Regions from separate parts of the Homo sapiens genome. Here region 2 is linked to region 1. Evidence: fine-mapped QTL for protein levels in blood plasma. Region 1 holds a variant in brackets. A gene starts in the other region. All regions are shown on their reverse strands.

The links. PIP is the chance, under the fine-mapping model, that this variant and not a neighbour inherited with it causes the effect. Protein levels are from antibody-based Olink assays in UK Biobank. Linkage for the fine-mapping came from a reference panel and not from the study's own genotypes, which makes the PIPs less certain.
Region 2: ACAN starts here. The variant in region 1 is fine-mapped to the plasma level of the ACAN protein (UK Biobank, PIP 0.94).

Annotation. Positions count from the first base shown.
Region 1 is chr19:35,908,534-35,919,886 of GRCh38, reverse strand. No RefSeq gene overlaps it. Among named protein-coding and RNA genes, the nearest start is that of TYROBP, 5.9 kb to the right of the region's middle. RefSeq lists enhancers at 10,076-10,185, 10,286-10,335, 10,486-10,615. The variant C/T (reference allele first, on the strand shown) is at 10,558.
Region 2 is chr15:88,797,775-88,809,485 of GRCh38, reverse strand. ACAN (aggrecan) reads right to left here and starts at 6,050. Exons shown (of 19, transcript NM_001369268.1): 1 at 5,677-6,050. LOC105370960 (a long non-coding RNA gene) reads left to right here and starts at 5,968. Exons shown (of 3, transcript XR_001751648.1): 1 at 5,968-6,036; 2 at 10,682-10,830; 3 at 11,582-11,711.

The DNA of each region.
Region 1 (11,353 bases):
TCCTGCGATGGGCATTTGGGTTGTTTCTTTTGAAAAGCCTTACAAATAGGGTGGCCTTACAAATAGGGTGACTATCCTTACACAAGGCTCCTGGCATCTATTGCACCCATCTCTCTCAGATACAGATAGGGGCGGAAGTTGGGTCTCTGGGAAGTAAAGTGCCAAACTGTTTTTCAAAGTGGTTCAACCCCTCTGCCTCCTTCAGAGGTGTATGAGATTTTCTGTGGCTCCACATTTCACCACATCTGGTAGTGTCGGATTTTGAAAATTTCGACATTTCTAGGGGTAGAGGGAAAGGTGTGGAGCGGTTTTGCGCTACTAGTCTTGTTTGTTTTTAGAGATGGAGTCTGACTCTTGTCGCCCACTCTGGACTGCAGTGTTGCAATCTTGGCTCACTGCAACCTTTGCCTACCGGGTTCAGGCAATTCTCCTACCTCGGCCTCGTAACTGGGATTACAGGCATGTGCCACCATGCCGGCTATGTTTGTATTTTTAGTAGAGACGGGGTTTTGCCATGTTGGCCAGGCTGGTCTTGAACTACTGACCTCAGGTGATCCTTCCACCTCCGCCTGCCAAAGTGCTGGTATTGCAGGCGTGAGCCACTGCACCAGGCCTTACATTGTTTTAATGTTTGTTCTCCTTCTGAGGATGAGCACCTTTTCACACCTTTATTGCCATTTAGAGTTCCTCTTTTCTGAAGTGCTTGCTTGAAGTGGCTCATGCCTGCAATCCCCGAAATTTGGGAGGCCAAGGCCAGAGGACGCCTTGAGCCCAGGAGTTTGAGACCAGCCTGGGCAAGACCCTGTTTCTAAAAAAATTTAAAAATTAGCCAGGCATAGTAGCCCATACTTATGGTCTTAGTTACTTGGGAGGCTGAGGTGGGAGGATGGCTTAGGCCAGGGAGGTTGAGGCTGCAGTGAGCTAGGATTCTGCCACTCTACTCCAGCCTGGGTAACAGAGTGAGACCCTGTTTCAAATAAATAAATCAATTGGCCAGATGCAGTGGCTCATGCCTGTAATCCAAGCACTTTGGGAGGCCAAGGTGGGCCAATTGCCTGAGCTCAGGAGTTTGAGAACAACCTGGTCAACATGGCGAAACCCCGTCTCTACTAAAAATACAAAGATTAACCGGGTGTGGTGGCATGTGCCTGTAATTCTAGCTATTCGGGACACTGAGGCAGCAGAATCGCTTGAACCTGGGAGGTGGAGGTTGCAATGAGCCAAGATTGCACCACTTCATTCCGGCTTGGGTGACAGAGTGAGACTGTCTCCAAAAAATAAAATAAAATAAATTAAATTAATTAATTAAGTGTCTACTTGAGTTTGCCAATTTTTCTTCTGGGGTTTGCTGTTTGTTTTTAAGGAGTTATTTATGTGTGCAGGATATGTTCAGATTCATTGCATTATGTGTTACAAATTTCTTCTCCTACTCTGTAACCATTTTCTAATGGTTATCTTTTTTTTAATAAAAAATCTCAAACATACACAAAAGTAGAGAGAATCGTATAATGAATTCCCATAGACTTATTGCCAGCTTTAATAATTGTCAATTCGTGCTAATCTTATTCCCTCTCTACCTGAACCTACTTCTTCTTTATTGGATTGCTTTTAACACTTTCCAGACGTCTTATTATTTCACCTCCCAAATTTGTAGGAAGTACATATCGCTAAGTAATAATGACCTTTTAAAATATAGATCTAAATATATAGCCACATTATCATTCTAAGATATCTTTTGGTGAATGTTAATTCTTTTTTTTTTTTTTTTTTTTTTGAGACGGAGTCTCACTCTGTCGCCCAGGCTGGAGTGCAGTGGCGCTATATCTCCGCTCACTGCAAGCTCCGCCTCCTGGGTTCACGCCATTCTCCTGCCTCAGCCTCCCGAGTAGCTGGGACTACAGGCGCCCGCCACCACGCCTGGCTAATTTTTTTGTGTATTTTTAGTAGAGACAGGGTTTCACCGTGTTAGCCAGGATGGTCTTGATCTCCTGACCTTGTGATCTGCCCACCTCGGCCTCCCAAAGTGCTGGGATTACAGGCTTGAGCCACCGCGCCCGGCCATTAATTCTTTTTTTTGGGAGACAGAGTCTCGCTCTGTCACCCAGGCTGGAGTGCAGTGGCGTGATCTCGGCTCACTGTAGCCTCGACCTCCAGGGCTCAAGTGATCTTCCCACCTCAGCCCCCCAAGTAGCTCAGACTACAGGTGTGTGCCACCACGCTCGGCTAATTTTTAATTTTTTTTGTAGAGAGAGTGTCTCTCTATGTTGCTCAGGCCGGTCTACACCTCCTGACCTCAAGCAATCCTCCTGCCTTGGCCCCACAAAGTGCTGGGATTACAGGGATGAGCCACTGTGGCAAGTTCTTAATTTTTTTTTTTTTCCCCTTGAGACAGAGTCTTGCTCTGTCCTTGTTGCCCAGGCTGGAGTGCAGTGGCCCAATCAAATCATGACTCACCATAGCCTCAACCTCCTGGGCTCAGGTGATCCTCCTATCTCAGCCTCCCAAGTAGCTGAAACTACAGGCATGTACCACCACACTCGGCTGATGTGTTTGTTTGTTTGTTTGTTTGTTTGTTTTCGTAGACAAGGTCTCGCTATGTTGCCCGGACTGGTCTTGATCTCCTGGCCACAATTGAGGTTCCTGATTCAGCCCCCCAAAGTGCTGGGATTATAGGCATGAGCCACCATGCCTGGCCATGACTCTATTTATGTTATGGATGAACCACAATTGATGAAACCATCAAGCATTACTTGGATTCTACTTAAAAAGCCTTCAAAATGTTAGCTGTTGTGGTTAAAGTGGGTGCCCACAGCCAGAATAAGGGCCACATTCCAGCCAATAGGAAGAGCAGAAAAGGAGAGGGCATACTCTGACTTTAGGGACACAATCTGGAAGTTGCCCGCATCATTTCTTCCCAAGTTCCGTTTGCCAGAAAACAGATACATGGCCCCAACAGGCTCCAAAGAGGATGAGAGACATCTTCTTGGCTAGGGAATCTCATGCCCAACTACAAATTCTGTTTCAGTAGAGGAAGGGGTGGCTGGGCAAGGGGGTTCACACCTGTAATCCCAGCACCTTAGGAGGCCAAGGCAGGTGGATTGCCTGAGCTCAGGAGTTTGAGACCAGCCTGGGCAAGGTGGTGAAACACTATCTCTACAAAAAAATTTAAAAATTAGCTGGCATGGCGGTGCCTGCCAGTAGTCCCTGCTACTTGCAGAGCTGAGGTGGGAAAATTATTTGAGCCTGGGAGGTTGAGGCTGCAGTGAGCTATGTTCCTGCTAGTACACTACAGCCTCAGTGACAGAGTGAGATCACATCTCTAAAAAAATAAAAATAAAAATTAGGATGTCGGGAGTGGTGGCTCACGCCTGTAATCCCAACACTTTGGGAGGCCGAGGCTGGCAAATCACCTGAGGTCAGGAATTAGAGACCAGCCTGACCAATATGATGAAACCCCGTCTCTACTAAAAATACAAAAATTAGCTGGGCATGGTGGTGCATGCCTGTAATCCCAGCTACTCAGGAGGCTGAAGCAGGAGAATCGCTTGAACCCAGGAGGCAGAAGTTGCAGTGAGCCAAGGTTGCACCATTGCACTCCAGCCTGGGCAACAAGAGCAAAACTTCATCTCAAAAAAAAAAAAAAAACAAAAAAAAAAAACAGACGTGGTGGCTCACACCTATAGAAGAAGAAGGGGAGAAAAAAATATTGGTGAGGCCAGGTGCAGTGACTCATACCTGTAATTCCAGGGCTTTGGGAGAATGAGGTGGGAGGATCGCTTGAGGCCAGGAGTTCAAGACCAGCCCAGGCAACATGGCAAAACATCATCTCTATGAAAAATATAAAAATTAGCTGGGCATGGTGATGCGCACCTATAGTCCCAGCTACTTGGGAGGCTAAAGTGGGAGGATCGCTTGAGCCCAATAAGTTGAGGCTGTAGTGAGCCATGATTGCACCACTGCACTCCAGCCTGCGTAACAGAGCAAGACCCTTTCTCCAATAAAAAGATAAGTAAAAATAGTTCATTCCTTTTTATTGCTGAGTAGTATCCCACCGTGTGGATCTCAAAAAAATGGATAAACAACTTGTTTATCCATTCATCCAGTGAAGAACCATTCGGTTGTTTCCAGTTTGGGGCAATTATGAACAAAGCCACTATTAATATATGGTACTGGTTTTTGTATAAACTCACGTTTTCACTTCTCTTTGGTAAATACCTAGGAGTGGGAGTGTTGGGTTGTATGGTGTGTTTATGTTTAAATTTCTTAGAAATTGCCAAACTTCCCCCAGTGTCTGATGCAAATGACAGAAGCCTTCACAGAAGGTCCCAGATCACTTTAGCAGTGGAGCTGAGGTGTTTGCTCCCCAAGGCAGGAGTAGGATCTGATCTGTGTAGCTCAGGGACTGATTTCTTGGACCTCCTAGAGATTCAGTGGGTTCCCTAATGTCATTGAACACATCACACATCCCCTTCTTTTTTTTTTTTTTTTTTTGAGATGGAGTCTCACTCTGTTGCCTAGGCTGGAGTGCAGTGGCGCAATCTCGGCTCACTGCAAGCTCCGCCTCCTGGGTTCACGCCATTCTCCTGCCTCAGCCTCCCGAGTAGCTGGGACTACAGGCACCCACCACCATGCCTGGCTAATATTTTTGTATTTTTAGTAGAGACAGGGTTTCACCGTGTTAGCCAGGATAGTCTGGATCTCCTGACCTTGTGATCTGCCCACCTCAGCCTCCCAAAGTGCTGGGATTACAGGCGTGAGCCACCGCCCCCAGCCTCTTTTTTTTCTTTTCTTTTCTTTCTTTTTGTCTCTCTTTCTTTCTTCTTTCTTTTCTTTCCTTCTTTCTTTCTCTCTCTCTCCCTCCCTTCCTTCTTCCTTCCTTTTTTCTTTCTCTTGAAACAGGGTCTCCTTCTGTCACCCAGGCTGGAGTGCAGTAGTGCCACGATAGCTCACTGCAACCTCCAATCCCTGGGTTCAGGCAACCTTCCTGCTTCAGACTCCTGAGTAGCTGGGACCACAAGTGTGCTCCACCACGCCTAGCTAATTTAAAACAATTTTGGGGGCCAGGCATGGTGGCTGATGCCTGTAATCTCAGAACTTTAGGAGGCTGAGGTGGGAGGATCGCTTGAGGCCAGGAGTGTGAGAACAGCCTGGCCAACATGGCGAAACCCTGTCCCTACTAAAAAAATACAAAAATTAGCCAGGTGTGGTGGCTCATGCCTGTAATCCCAGCTACTTGGGAGGCTGAGGCAGGAGAATCGCTTGAATCTGGGACGGGGAGGCTGCAATGAGCCGAGATCGAGCCACTGCACTCCAGCCTGGGCGGCAGAGAGAGACTCCATCTCAAAAAAAAAAAAAAAAAAAAAAAAAAAATTTGGGCCAGGCAGAGTGGCTCACGCCTGTAATCTCAGCACTTTGTGAGGCTGAGGCAGGCGGATCAGTTGAGGTCAGGAGTTCGAGATCAGCCTGACCAACATGGTGAAAGCCCATCTGTATGAAAAATAGAAAAATTAGGCCAGGCACAGTTGCTCACGCCTCTAATTCCAGCACTTTGGGGGGCTGAGGAGGGTGGATCACCAGAGGTCAGGACTTTGAGAACAACCTGACCAACATGGTGAAAGCCCACCTGTACTAAAAATACAAAAAACTATCCGGGCGTGGTGGTGGGTGCCTGTAATCCCAGCTACTCAGGAGGCTGAGGCATGAAAATTGCTTGAACCCAGGAGGCGGAGGTTGCAGTGAGCTGAGATCGTGCCACTGCACTCCAGCCTGGGTAACAGAATGAGACTCTGTCTCAAAAAAAAGAACAATTTTTGTAAATATGGTATCTTGCTATGTTTCTCAGGCTGATCTTGAACTTCTGGCCTCAAGAGATCCTCTCACCTTAGTCCCCTAAGGCACTGAGATGACAGGTGTGAGCTACTGCAGAATGTTTAAAGGAAACAACCGACTATTTTCCAAAGCGGTTGCTCTATTTTTCATTTCCACCGGCAGTGTCTGAGATTTCCAACTGCTCCACATTTCTGCTGACACTCGATAGGGTCAGTCTTTTTAATTTTAGTCATTTAAGTGGGCGTGCAGTGACATTTCACTGAGGTTTCGTTTATATTTCCCTAATGACTAATAGTGCTGAGCACTTTTTCACAGGCTTCCTGGCCATTCATGTCTCTTCTTCTTCTTCTTCTTTTTTTTTTTTTGAGATGGAGTCTCACTTTTGTCGTCCAGGCTGGAGTGCAATGGCTTGATCTCAGCTCACTACAACCTTTGCCTCCAAGGTTCAGGTGATTCTCCTGCCTCAGCCTCCCAAGCAGCTGGGATTACAGATGCCTGCCACCGTGCCTGGCTAATTTTTGTATTTTTAGTAGAGATGGGGTTTCACCATATTGGCCAGGCTGGTCTTGAACTCCTGACCTCAGGTGATCTGCCCGCCTTGGCCTTCCAAAGTGTTGGGATTACAGGCGTGAGCCACCACGCTGGCTTTTTTTTTTTTTTTTTGATGGAGTCTTGCTCTGTTGCCCAGGCTGGAGTGCAGCGGTGCGATCTCGGCTTACTGAAACCTCTGTCTCCTGGGTTCAAGGGATTCTCCTGCTTCAGCCTCCTGAGTAGATGGAATTATAGGAAACTGCCACCACGCCCAGATAATTTTTGTGTTTTTAACAGAGATGTGGTTTCACCATATTTGCTGGGCTGGTCTCGAACTCCTTACCTCAGGTGATCCGCCCACCTTGGCCTCCTAAAGTGCTGGGATTACAGGAGTGAGCCACCACGCCCGGCCTTCACGTCTCATCTTTAGTGAAGTGTCTGTTCAAATGTTTTGGTCACTTAAAAATTAGGCTATTTGTCTGATTTTTAAATTAAATTAATTAATTTTTTTCTTTTTTGAGACAGGGTCTCACTCTGTGGCCCAGGCTGGACTGCTGTGGCACAATCAAAGCTCACTGTAGCTTCTGCCTCCCCAGGCTCAGGTGATCCTCCCACCTCAGCCTCCCTAGTAGCTAGGACTACAGGTAGGTGCCACCATGCTGGGCTAATTTTTGTATTTTTTGTAGAGCTGGGATTTTGCCCTGTTGCTCAGGCTGGTCTCAAACTTCTGGGCTCAAGCAATTCACCTGCCTCAGCTTCCCAAAGTGCTGGGATTTACAAGCTTGAGCCATCACGCCTGGCTCCCAGGCTGGTCTTGAAATCCTGAGGTCAAGTAATATGCCTGCCTTGGTGTCCCAAAGTGTTGGCATGACAGGCGTGAGCCACCATGCCCAGCCTATTTTTAAAAATATAATTAGAGCTGGGCACGGTGGCTCACGCCTGTAATCCCAGCACTTTGCGAGGCGGAGGCAGGTGGATCACCTGAGGTTGCGAGTTCGAGACCAGCCTGACCAACATGGAGAAACCCCATCTCTACTAAAAATACAAAATTAGCCAAGCATGGTGGCGTATGCCTGTAATCCCAGCTACTCGGCAGGCTGAGGCAGGAGAATTGCTTGAACCCGGGAGGTGGAGGTTGCAGTGAGCGGAGATCGCGCCACTGCACTCCAGCCTGGGCGACAAGAGCAAAACTCCATCTCAAAAAAAAAAAAAAGAATTAGAGACAGGGTCTCGTTATGTTGCCCAGGCTGGTTTTGAACTCCTGGCCTCAAGCGATCCTTCTGCCTTGGCCTCTATTCATCTGATGTTTTACAAAGCTTCCAGCTGCTTTGAGGAGGACAGGCTGTGGAGGGGCCAGTGTGGAAGCTGGGAGAGTGGGGAGGGACTGTAGCTTCCACAGAAGTGAGCTGGTCACAGGCCAACACACTACCTGGTTTCTGGGAAAGTCAGCGTTGGCTTCCCCAACTCTTGGCCTGCTGCCCAGAGAGGGTGAGACACTCACCTCTTGATCTTGTGTGGAGGCCCTCAGCTCAGCTTCCAGGAGTCTGGCAGTGTCTTGGGGCAGCGCCTTGTTGCTGGGTGCCCTGAATCTCAGCTTCTTCCTTCATCCAAAGAGGGAGGGTTTTTTTGTTTTGTTTTGTTTTGTTTATTTTGAGACGGAGTCTTGCTCTGTTGCCCAGGCTTGAGTGCAGTGGTGCGATCTCGGCTCACTGCAACCTCTGCCTCCCAGGTTCAAGCGATTCTCCTGCCTTAGCCTCCTGAGTAGCTGGGATTACAGATGTGTACCACCACGCCTGGCTAATTTTTGTATTTTTTAGCAGGGACGGGGTTTCACCATGTTGGCCAGGATGGTCTCAAACTCCTGACCTCAAGTGATCCACCCGCCTCAGTCTCCCAAAGTGGTGGGATTACAGGTGTGAGCCACTATGCCTGGCCAAAGAGAGTGTTTTATCCGTCCTCTAGCCCAGAGGCCAGCCCAGACCTGCCACCTGTGGTCTGCATCAGCACAGTTGTATTGGTTGCTAAAATGTTGAAACATTCCACTTCTGGTTAGTAAAGAGCCCACATAGCCCACAGATGTCTGCTACCACCCGAGTCCATTCTTTGGGGACCCCTTGGACTTTCCCACATCTCAGCAACTAAAGGTGGCGCTCTAGGACCCTGATTCCAGCCCCTATGGCCACATCCGTATGACTGGATGGTGCTTGGGGAATATCTTCTGGGGACAGCCCAGGCCTGGCTGAAGTGGGGAGGATGAGACTAGGAGGCTGATGCTGAAGGACTGAGGGAGGATTTTTTTTTTTTTTCTGAGTCAAAGTCTCACTCTTGTCATCCAGGCTGGAGTGCAATGGCATGATCTTGGCTCACTGCAACCTCTGCCTCCCAGGTTCAAGCGATTCTCCTGCCTCAGCCTCCCAAGTAGCTGGTATTACAGGCGCCTGCCACCATGTCTGGCTAGTTTTTGTATTTTTAGTAGAGACAGGGTTTCACCATGTTGGCCAGGCTGGTCTCAAACTCCTGACCTCAGGTGATCCACCCTCCTTGGCCTCCTAAAGTCCCAAAATCCAAAATCACGCCTGGGATTACAGGTGTGAGCCACTGCACCTGGCTGAGGGAGGATTTTTATCAAGCTAAGCTGAGAACTCGAGACTGGACATACTAATTTTTAGCATGGAACATATCCAAGTCACACGGTACCGAAGTATGTTCGCAGCAGTGAATCCATAGGGGTCTGCAGCAACCTCAATCCTTGCCTCCTCAAAAAAGAATTTGACCAAGGGACATAAGGCAGAGTGAGAAACCAAGGTAAGTTTTAGAGCAGGAGTGAAAGTTTATTATTATTATTATTATTATTATTATTATTATTATTATTATTATTATTTTGAGACTGAGTTTCGCTTTTGTTGCCCAGGCTGGAGTGCAATGGCGCAATCTCTGCTCACTGCAACCTCTGCCTCCTGGGTTCAAGCGATTCTCCTGCCTCAGGCTCCTGAGTAGCTGGAATTACAGGCACGCGCCACCACGCCAGGCTAATTTTGTATTTTTTAGTAAAGACCGAGTTTCTCCATATTGGTCAGGCTGGTCTCGAACTGCCGACCTCAGGGGATCCGCCCACCTCGGTCTTCCAAAGTGTTGGATTACAGGCGTGATCCACCGCGCTTGGCCCTTTATTATTATTATCATTATTTTGAGACAGAGTCTTGCTGTGTCGCCCAGGCTGGAGTGCAGTGGCGCGATCTCAGCTCACTGTAACCTCCACCTTCCAGGTTCAAGGTATTGTCTTGCCTCAGCCTTCTGAGTAGCTGGGACTACAGGTGCCCACCACCATGCCCAGGTAATTTTTTGTATTTTTAGTAGAGACCGGGTTTCACCATGTTGGCCAGGATGGTCTCGATCTCCTGACCTCGTGATCCGCCCGCCTCAGCCTCCCAAAGTGCTGGGATTACAGGCATAAGCCACCGTGCCCAGCCTAATTTTTAGTAGAGATGGGGTTTCACCATGCTGGCCGGGCTGGTCTTGAACTCAACCAGGCATTATTCTAATAGACCTCACAATATCCTCACAAATATCCCAGCAGCCTGGCCTCCCTGCTCCAGTCCCTGCCTCCACAGTCTGCTCCCCACCTGCGGCCGGAGGGAACCTGTGAACCCCTGAGTCAGGTCAGGGCCCTCCTGGCTCAGAGCCCTGCTCTGGTCTCTGACTGCCCCCTCGCCCACTCTGCTCCAACACATTGGGTGGCCTGGTGTGCCCGGGAGGACCTACAGGGTCTGTTCCCTCCATGCTCGCTCTAGACACAATGGGAGAGGCTTGGGTTTTTAAGGGAGGGGACTCAGCCAGGCCTGAACAGTGGTGACCGTGGGCTGAGCTGGGACCTGACCCTCCTCCAGGCTCCAAATCTCCTCTCCTCCCTTCCCCCACAGGCCACTGGGCATCTGCCCTGTGACCAGAATCCAGTTTCCCCTTTTTTCTCCTAAGCCCAGGCCCAAGGAGCGGTGGGTGTGACGTGTGGATGGGGGAGGGGGGCTTCCTGCAGCTGTCTCATCCTCCAGCACCCTAACCTCAGGTTCCTCCTTCCCCAGCCCCAGGCTCCAGCTGGGGGCTAGAAGTCCCCGTCTCCTTGGGGTGGCCTCCCTTGGGCCTTGCTCCCAGCCACTTCCTCATTCAGCAGGAGAGCCAGCCACCTGCCTCTCCCCAAGC[C/T]GCCAGCCGTGCCTCTGTGTCTGTGCCACTGCCTTACTCTCACCTTTCTCAGCTTTGCCGCTGTTTTCTCCTTCCCCATCTTTCATCTTTGTTTTTCCCCCTGACTCTTCCCTAGTCAAAAACCTGATTTTGGGTCTTGGGTTCCATTTCCACCTTGATTTGCTGTGCAGCCTTAGGCAAGCGTCTCTACCTCTCTGAACAATGGGGATGATAAGAGCATGTGCCCTAGAAGGGCATTGCGGGGACTGAATGATTTAACGCTTGGGACAGAGTGCCTGCATGTCATTAGTGCCCACATGCTGCTGGCTCTTTTAATATCCTTTAAACAGCACAAGTTTCTGATGATTAAATAATCATCATCATAGCTGATGCTTTTAAAAAGCTGACAAGGGTCAGACCCTGGTCTAGGAACTTTAATTCATTTAATCCCCACAACTCTAAAAAGTAGGTCCCATTTTACTCCCAATTTTACAGATGAAGAAACTGAGGTTGGAGCTGGGTGCGGTGGCTCACACTTGCAATCCTAGCACTTCGGGAGGCCAAGGTGGGTGGATCACCTGAGGTCAGGAGTTTGAGACCAGCTGGCCAACATGGTGAAACCCTGTCTCTACTAAAAAAAAAAGAAAAAAAAATACAAAAAATTAGCCGGGCATGGTGGCAGGCGCCTATAATCCCAGCTACTTGGGAGGCTGAGGCAGGAGAATCACTTGAACCCGGGAGGCAGAGGTTGCAGTGAGCCGAGACCGTGCCATTGCACTCAAGGTTGACCAGCCAGGAAGAGGCAGAGCTGGTTTCA
Region 2 (11,711 bases), not on the chromosome of region 1:
GGTGCCTGCATCGGCTTCAAGGCACCCCCACAGGCCTCCTTCGGAGGTCCTCACTGGATCTTGGCCCATGAGGGCAGGCTTAGCATCTCCGTGTTATAAATAAAGAACCTGAGGCTGAGAGGTGAAGCAGTTTCCCCTAGGTCATATGGCCATCAGTGCCCAGTCCATGTGACTCCAAGTGCAGTGCTCCTCCCACCACACACACTGGAGGGAGATGCTCACACCACCCACTGCCCCTCCCCCAAGCAGAGGGAATACTATGGCAACCCTGCCCCAAAGAGCAGCCTTCTTTGGCTTCCTGATCACACGTGTGGATGCTGTAATTTTCCATAGTGGGGACTTTAAAAGCCTCAAATATACTAATAACAGTTGCCATTTTATTGTATGTCTAATTTGTGCCAGGTCCTTTATTTGCTTTCAAACCTTCACAACTGTACCATGAGTCCATCTCACGGAAACAGAAACGCAGTGAGGCTCAGAGAGGATAACTGACTTACCCAAGGGGATACAGCTAGGATTTCAACCTCAGTCTGGGCCACCAAAGCCCACATTTTTTCTAATTTACCATGGGGGCTCGGACTTTTCTTTTCCTTTTCATTTATTGTCCCCTCTGCACTGCCTACCTAACTTTCCTTCTTGTCCTATCCCCTCTTTTCCAGTTGCCATGCCCAGTTGGGCATGGCCTGGCCCATGAACTAAATGAAGGTCTGCAGCAGGGTGTCTCAGCCTTGGGACTATTGACATTTTGGGCCAGATAATTCTCTATTGTGCATGTATGTGGGCGGGGGCTGTGCTGTACACTGTAAGATGTTTCACAGTACCCCTGGCTCTATCCATGAGACGCTAGCAGCAAGCACCTCAGTCTCCAGTGGTGACAACAAAAAATGTCTCCAGACATGGCCAAATGTTCCCCGGGGAAGGAGGGCAAAATAGCCCCAGGTGACAGCCACTGCTGTATAGAAATGAGGGGTCAGGTTCAGGTTGGTTACAGTCCGTCTTCCCCATTAGACTGTAAGTAGGTGGAGGGCAGGAAGAGTGAGTTGATTTATTCACTGCTATGTTATCCATGCCTAGCACAGTGCCTGGCATGTAGCAAGTGCTGCTGAAAGAATGAATGAATGATCTCTGGGAACACGACATATTCTGTGATGAGAACCTGAAGGTCTAGATCCCAGTCCAGATTCTTACCAACCTGCTCTGGGGCAGCAGCCTGGGGCATATCCTTCCCCTCTTTGGGCCTAGGTCCCTTTTGCGATCTCTTAAATGAGGACCATCACAGGCCTGGAAGGCCCTGGGCATCTGTGATCTGGGGACTGCCAGAGACCAGGGAGCTGAGGGAGGCTGTCTCCCAGGTCAGGCATTGCAGATCTGCCATGTCCTGTGTTTCTCCTTCTTACCCTCACCCCTCCAGTCAAATCAATTACAGAAAGACAGGCACCCCCGCCCCCACATACACCAAAATAGTGACCTACACAGAAGAGGTGGCTCCTTTTTTGAGTGTGTATCTTAAGAGGAAAAACATGTAACCTCAAAGGTAACCAAATATCCAAATCGTGATGCCCAGCATCACACACCCCAAATCCACCTATTCATGAGTTTAACAAAAAGCTTCTTTAGGATACACTGTAAGGCCATTGAGAGGGAGAGAAGTCACCTCTCACAGGCCTGGCCAGCCCGCAGGGCCCGCCCTGCCAGCATGCACACACACACACACACACACACACACACACACACACACTCCACCACTTATAAGGAGGCTCTGAGTTTTTAAAAGTAAACTCCACCGTTTCCGTTCTTGCCCTGGATTCAACTTTTGAAAAAAGAAACCGTTTTACCGTTTTCTCTACAAATTCCCCCTCTCTGGTCCTCCTCTCGCCTGCACTCCCGCTCCTTCTCCAGCCCTCCCCTTGTTCTGCCGGCCTCCCAGTGGCCCTTCTTCAACTGCGTCCAGGGGCCCAGACTCCCTCGCAGGGATGGCTGTGTCCTGTTGGATCTGGGGGAAGGGGAGCTGCCACTCCCAAAGTAGCTGTCACAGAAACGGGCCCTTCATCCCATTGAAGGGGCTTCCTTTAAGTTATCAGGGCGGCAGTGCGGCTACCATCAGGACACGAAGCATGGCCACGAGGCCAGGCCGTTGACAGCAGGAGAGGAAGGCTCCTGTTCCCAAGATGTGCTCCTGATCCCCTTTCCCAGGGCAGCTGCTGGCCTGTCCCCTCCCCTGCTCTACTTATAAGCAGACCTTCCTCCATGCCCTGCTTCCTCTCTGACTCTGGGTCCTCTTCCTTGAACTTGCCTTTCCCCAACTCCAGCTTCCACCTCAGCTGCCTTGACTCCCCAGCACTTGGTGCAGTGGCAGCAAGGATGCCCCAGCACCTGCCACCTAGGGCCACAATGCTGAAATTTCTGAGACAGAAACATCATTGGGACCAATATAGTAAAAAAAAAATTAAATAAAAATATATGCAAATATCAAATTTGTATATATTTGCATATATACATTTATATTATAAACATACATACCCTTATAGAGGGCTTCAAAATAAATAACAGAAACAAAAGTTTCCAGAAACAGTACTTACCTTTGCTACATAGGAGGCACTATGAGATTATCTGGTATTTCCTATTTTATTAAGAACCCCGCTAAATTGATCTCACAACCTGCAGTTGGACAAATCTGGTGCTAGACATCCCTGCAGCAGCAGAGACAGACTCAAAGTGGGACTCTAGGCAGGGTCTCATGGGCTTCCTTTGGCTCAGCTGAGGTCCTCCTAAGGGCCCAATAAGAAGGGTCTTGGGAGGAACCCAGTTCTAGAAGGAATCATTAAAAAGAAATTCACTGGCTGGGCATGGTGGCTCACGCCTGAATCCTAGCATTTTGGGAGGCTGAGGCAGGCGATCACCTGAGGTCAGAAGTTCGAGACCAGCCTGGCCAACATGGTGAAATCTCGTCTGTACTACAAATACAAAAATTAGCCGGGCGTGGTGGTACACAAGTAACCCCAGCTACTTGGGAGGCTGAGGCACAAGAATCACTTGAACCTGGGAGGCGGAGGTTGCAGTGAGCCAACATTGGGCCACTGCACTCTAGCCTGGATAACAGAGCAAGACTCCCATCTTAAAAAAAAAAAAAAAATTCACACCAAAAGTTAGGACACACAGTCTCTTATCAAGAGAAAACATTTGAAATTTTTGCTATCCATAACTTGGGGTTTGTGACCCACAAGGGGGCTTAGGAGCTGTTAGAGGAGAGGAATTAAAGTTTGTGGTGCTTGCTGAGAGCTGGACAAGGCACCCACTTTATGTCTTTTAATCTTCACAAAAATCTCTTATCGGAGGATTTTCTCCCCTTTTTAGAGAAGAGGAAATGAAGCCTCTGGGAGGCTCAGTACCCTTATCAAAGCCATGTAGCCAGCGAGTGGCTGAGCTGGAATTTGAATCCCAGTCTTCCTTGCATGCAGGCTGTCCACCCTCCTGGCTCTTGCCGACTGTCTCAGGAGGTGAGCTCTCTCTTGGAGCTCCCTCTCTAATTGGGGAGGGGGCATAAGAGGAGGAGAACGCTCTGCCTTGGCATGCAGGGGTGAGTGGCTGCCTGGGATTGGGCGTGTGGGTGTGAGAGAGATGGGGAACAGGGGCAAGAGGTGTGCCTGGGTGTGTGGAGGGCTTCCGAACATTAAACAAAATATTCCCTTTTAAGTATGATTGTCAGTGAATATTCTAGAAAAAGAAAAACATTCATTTACTACTAGAATTAAGAATGATAATAGTAATATTAATAATATGAAACAGTTACTGAGTACTTGCCCAGTGCCAGGCACTACGCTAAGCCCTTTGCTTGGGTCATCTCATATCTGCTGTTTATTGAGTACCCGCTGTGGGCCAGCATTGAGCACAGAGCCTGGCACCTAGGTGGCGCTCAGCAGATATTGGAGAATGAATGAAAATACCAGGCACAGCACTAGAAACTACACGTAAGAATATCTAAATTAAACACAGCTCAAGGTAACCTGTGGAATTCCAGCATCTCTCCAAGAGATATCTTCTTCCTTTGGACAATTCCTTCTTCTGAAACTTTTTATACTGGGGAGATCTACTATTCTGCAATCTTTCTTTCAGGTTAGAACCTCTCCTCCCCACTGCCGCTCAATGCTTCCTCCCCCAACGAGCTTCAGGGTTTTCTTCCCCATTGCCTTTCCATTTCCTGCAGTTTCTCCCTGGAGCCTGTGATTGACAAGCCAACACTCCTAAACCGTATCTTCATAGTGCCTCCAAACCCACCTTGCCCAGGGTGCATGAGCAACCTGATTGCTCCTTGTCCATGGCAACCCAGGACAAGAAAGAGAGATAAGGATTAGAACCCAAGAATTCTGGACTCTTAAATCAGGACGAGGGACCGACTATGGCCTCAGAAAACCTGGATTCTAGTTCTGCCCTTGACCCTAAGTCACAGTTCAACCTTCAGAAATTCATTGCACCTTTCTGGGTCCACTTGCCCTCCTCTTCAGACGAGGTGGGTGAATTTTCAAGGTCCAGAGTCCCCTCTAAACTGTCAGACACCCACCCACTGCAGCACCCAGGACCCCAAAACACCGTGCTAACCCAATTCAGCTTTGTATTTTCCTCCTGGCAGCCAGCCCCACAGAACCAGAATTTACACATCAGTCAACATGCTGGAACTCCAGCTTCTTCATGGTGAAACCCTAGTAGGATCCTGTCAGAACCCAGCTCATGACTGAAAGGAGGATAATGATGGAAAAGTTTGGGTTGGATCCTGTCTCACAACCAGAGACAAGCCCCCACCCCCGCAGCTTGCTCTGCCCAGAGTGTGGTTCAGTTGACATACTGACAGCCTCCAACCCAGCCCCAGGGTTGGAAAGGGCTCCTGCTCCACCAGCATTGGCTTCGTTTGAAGAGGAACCCACAGACGGAAAAACCGCTCGTGGTCGTGTGTCCTCAACTCCCCTCCCCTTTCTTCCTTGAGAAATGCCCCTTCTTGGTTGGACACCCGTGTGTTCAGGGCACTGCTCTCCTCTCCCCTGCTGGCAGTTCAGTAGCTCTGTCCCAGGTTCTGCCACTCTCCCCTGGGCAGACTCTTCAGGCACTCTGGTCCCTGGAGTAAGCCAAGTGGCCAAGGATGGACTATCTAGCCTCGGCTTAGGACCCGCTGTGTCCCTGACATAGTGTCCATATGATTTCATTTATTCTTCCAGACCCCGCGAAGGCCTTTTCCCTCTCAGCTGACAGACGGCAGGCCAAGGCTCAGGAAGGTGAAGCACACCTTCCAGCTCAAAAGTAGCACCTCGGGGATTTGAACCCACATTCCCTTGACTCTGAAGCTGCTACTCTGTCAACCATGGGTCTTTCCAGACCCTAGGATTTAAAATCACCTAGGTGTTTGGAGAAAAGGCTCCCTTGTTCCTTCATCCTGGCGGACTAGGAGACAAGTGCCCCTCCTCACGTGTTCCTTTGCCCCATTCACTGAGTCTGCAACAGCCAAAAAGTTTGCTCAACTCCACCGCGGACGCAGCCGGTGGATGTGCTGCGCCCCCGGCACACATAGCTCTAGGGCGGAGACCAAGGCAGTGCAGCCCCCAGCCCCGGGGCGTGCAGTCTCAGTCCCGTTCCTGGCTCGCCGGGCGCCCTGGGAGAGCCTCGCTCTGGAGGGAAGGAGACAGTTACCTTGAAGAGTTGGACTCCCTTCTCCAAGAACTTCAGTCCCACACACCTGGCGAGGCAGCTGGGGGCTCCTGGGGCCGGGAGGCCCGGGTCTCGCTGCGTAGCGAGGGAGACGCTCTGCGCGGGCGCTGCGCACCCCTCCTCCTGCCGGCGTCCTGTCCGCAGGTCCCCTCGGGCTGTGGCCGCAGCGGCAACTGCTGGGTTGCGGAGTCCTGGCTGGCTGAGGGAATGGACACTGAAAGGTGCCCGGAGACCCTGGCACCCGCGTCAGACGCCGGCCGGCGAGGGTGCTGAGAGAGAGAGACCTTGAGCAGCGCTGCGCGCGTCCTCAGCTCTGCGAGCCCCCTCTGGAGCGGCGGGGAGGTAGGTGGGCGGGCGGGCGGGCATGGCGCGCTGTGACACATACATAGGGACGGGCGGGGGAGGGGAGGGCCCGTGAGGGGTGGGGGCGGGAGGGGGCGAGCGCAAAGGGAAACCCCACCCCCAGGGACCGAGGGGCGGCCGACAGGGGGAGGGGAAGGCAGAGGCGTCTGGAGCGCGCTGGACCCTGGCTCCGGACCGGCGCGCCGATGGGGAAGCCGGCCTGCGCTCAGGGCGGGAGAGGAGCGCTCCCCGGGGCGGCGCGGACCCGGCAGCTCCGGGGCTGGCGGGAGGAAGGCGGCGCGAGAAGGGCTGGAGGGCCCGCATCTGCATTGCGGTCGGCAGCTCCGCAGTCGGAGGGGCCCAGGAGGGCTGCACCCTCAGAGAATCCCCAAGTGCCCGGACTCTGAGGCCGCCGCGGCGGGACAGGGCTCCCGGGCGCCCGGCGGGGTTCTGCAGCTGAGGCTGGCCACGACGCGATCTAAGGAGGGTGCAGCCCGCTACTGTCGGCCACGATTTGGAACGACCCTCACCGAGGAGCTGGCTGAAAGTTTTTTTGGGGGTGGCGTACACCGGGATGGCAGGGGATGGTGGAGAGGGGGAGGTAAGGCGTCAGCGGGGAGGCTCACGGGGAGCTGCGAGTCTCTGGGTCTTCAAATTCCCCGGGAGAGACCAAGGACATCTCATATGAAGCAGGAATTCTCCAGTGTCTCTACAGTACTCTTTAATACCGTTTTCAGGAAAAGGAGAAAAAGAACTAGCAGCTTTTGAATCCCTCCTATGAGCCCGTTGTGTAACATACATTAACATTTCATTTAATTTTTCCAAAGAGCCCAACAAGGTAAATATGGCAACTTCCCACCTGCCCCTAACCAAAGATGTGAAAACTGAGGCTCAGAAAGTGGTGGAGATCCCTCTTGAAGGTGGGACTGAGTTCGAGTCCCAGGTCTTGTGCTCTCTGCTACACAGGCTGCTGGTTGAGCCACAGCACCTTCGGAGGACTCAAGCTGGCTGGTGACCTTCAGAGTTCTTGTGGAGGAAGCTGGTGGTGCTTCACACCAGGATGTGGTGGCCACAGTCAGGATGGTGGTGGAAGCTTCCTGACCCTCTCATTGGGCAAGAAGAGGAAGAAGTGGAATCTTTCGGGACTCCCCACTACAGAGATAATAGACCACACTTTAATCAGTTCCTTGATGAAAAGGAACTGAAGTGCCTCGGTTTCCCCAGGGCGACTCCACTGGAATTATGTGGTTATTTTACTGGCCATCTCTGCCTGGGGGCGGGACTGGCCCTGGCCCAGCACATGCTCTGTGAGCCGCCTGTCTCTCCCCTGTCCAGGGCAGTGAAGCCCCGTCGGAGGGAGCATAGTGCCCACTCTATCCACCCACCTCTCAGAGCAATGGCTAAAGTGTTCCAGTGGTTGGCCATTCTTGATTTCACCCTTTTTCTACCTGAGCGTATTGAGTCAGGTCTGTAAGTCTTGAAGCATTTAGGACACAGACAAAATGCTGGTGACCGAAGCCCCTTAGGGGGTGATAGTGGCTTCTCTCACAGATAAAGAAATGAGATGAGGCCGGGCGCAGTGGCTCACGCCTGTAATCCCAGCACTTTGGGAGGCCGAGGCGGGCGGATCACGAGGTCAGGAGATGGAGACCATCCTGGCTAACACGGTGAAACCCCATCTCTACTAAAAATACAAAAAAATTAGCCGGGCGTGGCGGCGGGCGCCTGTAGTCCCAGCTACTCAGGAGGCTGAGGCAGGAGAATGGCGTGAACCCGGGAGGCGGAGCTTGCAGTGAGCTGAGACGGCGCCACTGCACTCCAGGCTGGGCGACAGAGCAAGACTCCGTCTCAAAAAAAAAAAAAGAGATGAAATCTTAATAGTTACTGGCCTCAATGCCTGGAACAGGGAGAAATGACCCTCTGGGAAAAAAACAGTCCCTGAAATTCCAACGAGGTCATGGATTCTCATGCCTGTGTTTACCTGATGCCTTGTGGGAGAACAAATTGCTCTCATTTGTAAAATGGGTTCATGTCAACATTCATCCTAGGGCAGGTGGGGTTAATGAAGAACAAGTCAAGGGCAAATATTAATTAGGCGATTTATCTTTGTATTGAAGGGAACAAATGTTTATTGATCATCTGGTTTTGTAATGAGTCTAAGAAACATATATTGGGCACCTATTATGTGTCAGATGCTGCTTGGTACAGCAGCCTCTCAGATGGATGCCATTCCCATTTACACACTAAGAAACCAAGACTCAGAGGCCATCAAGGTAGTGAATGGGATTGGAGTACAGGCTGGTATGAATTCACACTCCCTAGCCCTAAAGGATACAAAAAACCCAGGATAATGGCAACGCATTTGGACACTTTAAAGACAGTATTCAGAGAGTCAAAGGACATGCGTGTCAGAAGGCCCTTGGTGGCATACACAGGCTCTTCCTGTCCAACTCAGGAGCTCTGTTCCAGTGTAATATTTCTGAAGCTGGTCATCTCCTCTTCTGCTAGAATACTTTACAGTTGCCTAATGCCTTTTCCAGGCTGCCCGATGCAGTCTGCTGTAAACTGGCAATTTCTAACCTCTTGCTGCTCAGAGTATGTTCTATAGACTGGCAGTGTCACCTGGAAGCTTATTCAAAATGCAGAATGCCAGGTTCCCCAGACCTACTGACTCACAATCTGCATTTTAACAAGATCCCTCCCGTGTTGTATATGCCTGCTGAAGTTTGAGAAGCACTGTGCTGACATCATTCAGCAGGTTCTACTCATTCAATCACAAATCACAGAATAAGAGAATCTCAGAGCTGGGAAGAGCTCTTGGAGAACTTTAAGGACACCCCTCCATAGAGTATGTCAGTCCTGTCCATGATGTTTCCCTCAAGTAGGACATCAGACTCTGCTTGGATGTGGCCATGAGTTTGACTCCCTTCTGAGGCCACATCCATTTTTTTCACGTGGTTCTTGTATTTAGGCAGCTTTCAGCTTTCACAGAAGCTCATGCCCAATACTGTGGATTCAGCAGTGAACAAGACAGGCCCATTTCCATCCCCCCAACCCTAACCTGTCCCAGGACCTCCTGCCACGTGATAAACCTTTCTGTTTGGAATCAGTGATCTCAAGTCTCTCCCTTCTCCCTTTTGGATTGGGTCCAGAGGAGAGCTCACCTCAATAACCTGGGTCCTGTGCTTCTGGTAATGCAGCCAACATTTATGTGCTTTTATGACAGCCTCATCATGACTCATTTGGAGCCTGCAGCCAGCTCAGACTTCCTTTTCACAGTGCTTCTGCCACCTAGCATCTCCTTTGGCTTATCCTGGTACAATGGGTTTTTCCAATCCAAGTGTGGGGCTTCATTTTTGCTTCTTTTAAACATTACACTAACTAATTCAGTTTACTACTTCAGATCATCTTGGATTCTGACTCTATTATTCTGTGTGTTTGCCATTCCTCTTAGCAGCAGACATTCTACAAAGCTAACTAGTGTGCCACTTCTATGTTTTCATTCAGGCTGCTCATAAAAATATTGCCTGGGACGGAGATTAGGGCTGAGTTCTAGAGCAGAGCACTAGAGACAGCCCCCCTGGAATGAACGACATAATCCGATATTCCAGTTATAATGGCTGTGTAACAAATCACCTCAAAACTGAGTGTCTTAAAACAATAGTTATTTAATATCTCTCATGGTTTCTATGGATCGGGAATTTGGGAGAAACTTCGCCAGGCAGTTCTGGCCTGGACTAGCTCTTGAAGTTGTAGTCAGATGTCAGTTACAGCTGCAGTTAGCTGAAAGCTTGACTGGGGCTTGAGGATCCATGTCCAAGGTGGGTCGCTCACGTGATTGGTGAATTGGTGCTGGCTGCTGGCCAGTGACCTCATTTCATCTCCATAGGGCCTCCCGATGGAGCTGCTTGAGTGTCCTCATGACATGGCAGCTGGCTTCCACCACAGTGAGTGACACAGGGAGTGCAGTGCTTCTGTGTCATAGCTTTGGAAGTCCCACACAGGGCCAGCCCTGAACTAGTGTGGGAGGGTCATACAGGATGTGAATACCAGGGGATGGGGATCACTGGGGGCATCTTGGAGGCTGGCTTCTACACTCCATTAAACTAACTCATAGAGCATGGCCAGTCCCCCCATCCATCTGACTGTATTACCATGGAGTGCTTATTTCTGTCCCATACATGGGGACACCATGAAGGTACCTTGCTAAGTCCCAATATAAGGTGCTTGCAGAATTCCTCTGAAGCATTCATTCCAAACTCTTTTACAAGTGAGTGGCCCAATTCTGCTCTCTAGAGCAACACAGTCTGCCCCCATTTCAACAGGGGCAGCCTCCAGTTAGTGCAGGAGGGTTCTCACATCACCCTTCATGTCTCTCCTCACAGGGTCTTTGACTGTTTCCCAAGGGAGTGTTCTTCTGGAGTTTGCTTCTGGATTCCTCACTCTCTGCGAACCTTGTTTGTGGATGCCCCTCAAAAATGCAATGCCCGGCATTAGATGCACAAGCCCAGGTGTGGACTGATTAGAGGGGAGCCAGGACAACTCTTTTCTCTAACCATTTGGATATTCTGCTCCTACCGGTATGGCCAAACATCGTTGAGTTTCAGAACTACATCTCACTGTTGCTTGATATTTAATCTTGCAGGCAATTAAAATGAAGACTGTTTCCATGCGGGCCCCCGTGAAAGGGATTCCTGTGTATCTCAAGCAACAAAGAGAGCTGTGGAGCAAGGAGATTCCCTGTGTAATCGGGAGCACTGGATGTGAATCCCAGGTCTGGCATGGGAACCTTGGGTGAGTTTCTTAACCTCTCTGGATTTTGGTTTCACATCTGTAAAATGGAGCTATCTTATGGAATTGTTGTGAGAATTAAAATAAGATATGGAATGTCAGCCCCTAGTAACTGATCTGGCTCAAAGTGCAAGGATGGTTAATTTTCTTCCTTCCCCCTAGCCCCCACAATTTGGTGTGCCTGAGTAAGTACATTCTCTCCTGTGTGCTGTTTTCTGTGTTTGTAAAAGAAGCTAAAAATACCCACCTCATAGGAGTGTGGCAACAATGAATACTATATGTAATATGTGTAGAGAACGTTGTGATCCTTTTTGGAAGCAAAGGGCCATAGAAACATGATATAGAAAAGCCTTCTTATAGCAGAACTGGGCCAGGGAGTGGAGTCTAGTGAGAACTAGTGGAACACTTGAAAAGTGCTGTTTTATTACTTTAACACTGTACTAGTGGCAAAGTAGGAGGGAAATGTTATAATAAAGAACATGGAGACAGTTAATGAAACACTCACAAGCCTCCACGGGTCTGTGTGGAATAATGACATACAGTAACGGGAAAGTGCTGTGTCACCAAAGACATAGAAATTGAAGGGCACGTTTAAGGAAACTCTCTTAAAGCTTCAGTTTCAATTTTTTTTTTCTGAATTCATAGCAGATTCTTATTTTTAGTAAAACCCTACCATTTATAAAAGAGGAAATTATGGCAAGCATTTTATTCATTACTCACTAGTGTTTTTTTTTTTATCATTGAGAATACTCAGTGAGTGATGCTGAGTGGAATGTTACGTATCACCATCATCATCAGCATCCATCCCACCACCATCATCACAACCACCACCACCACCATCATCATCATCATCATCATCAACAGCTTTTTCCAAGCAAGTCTGG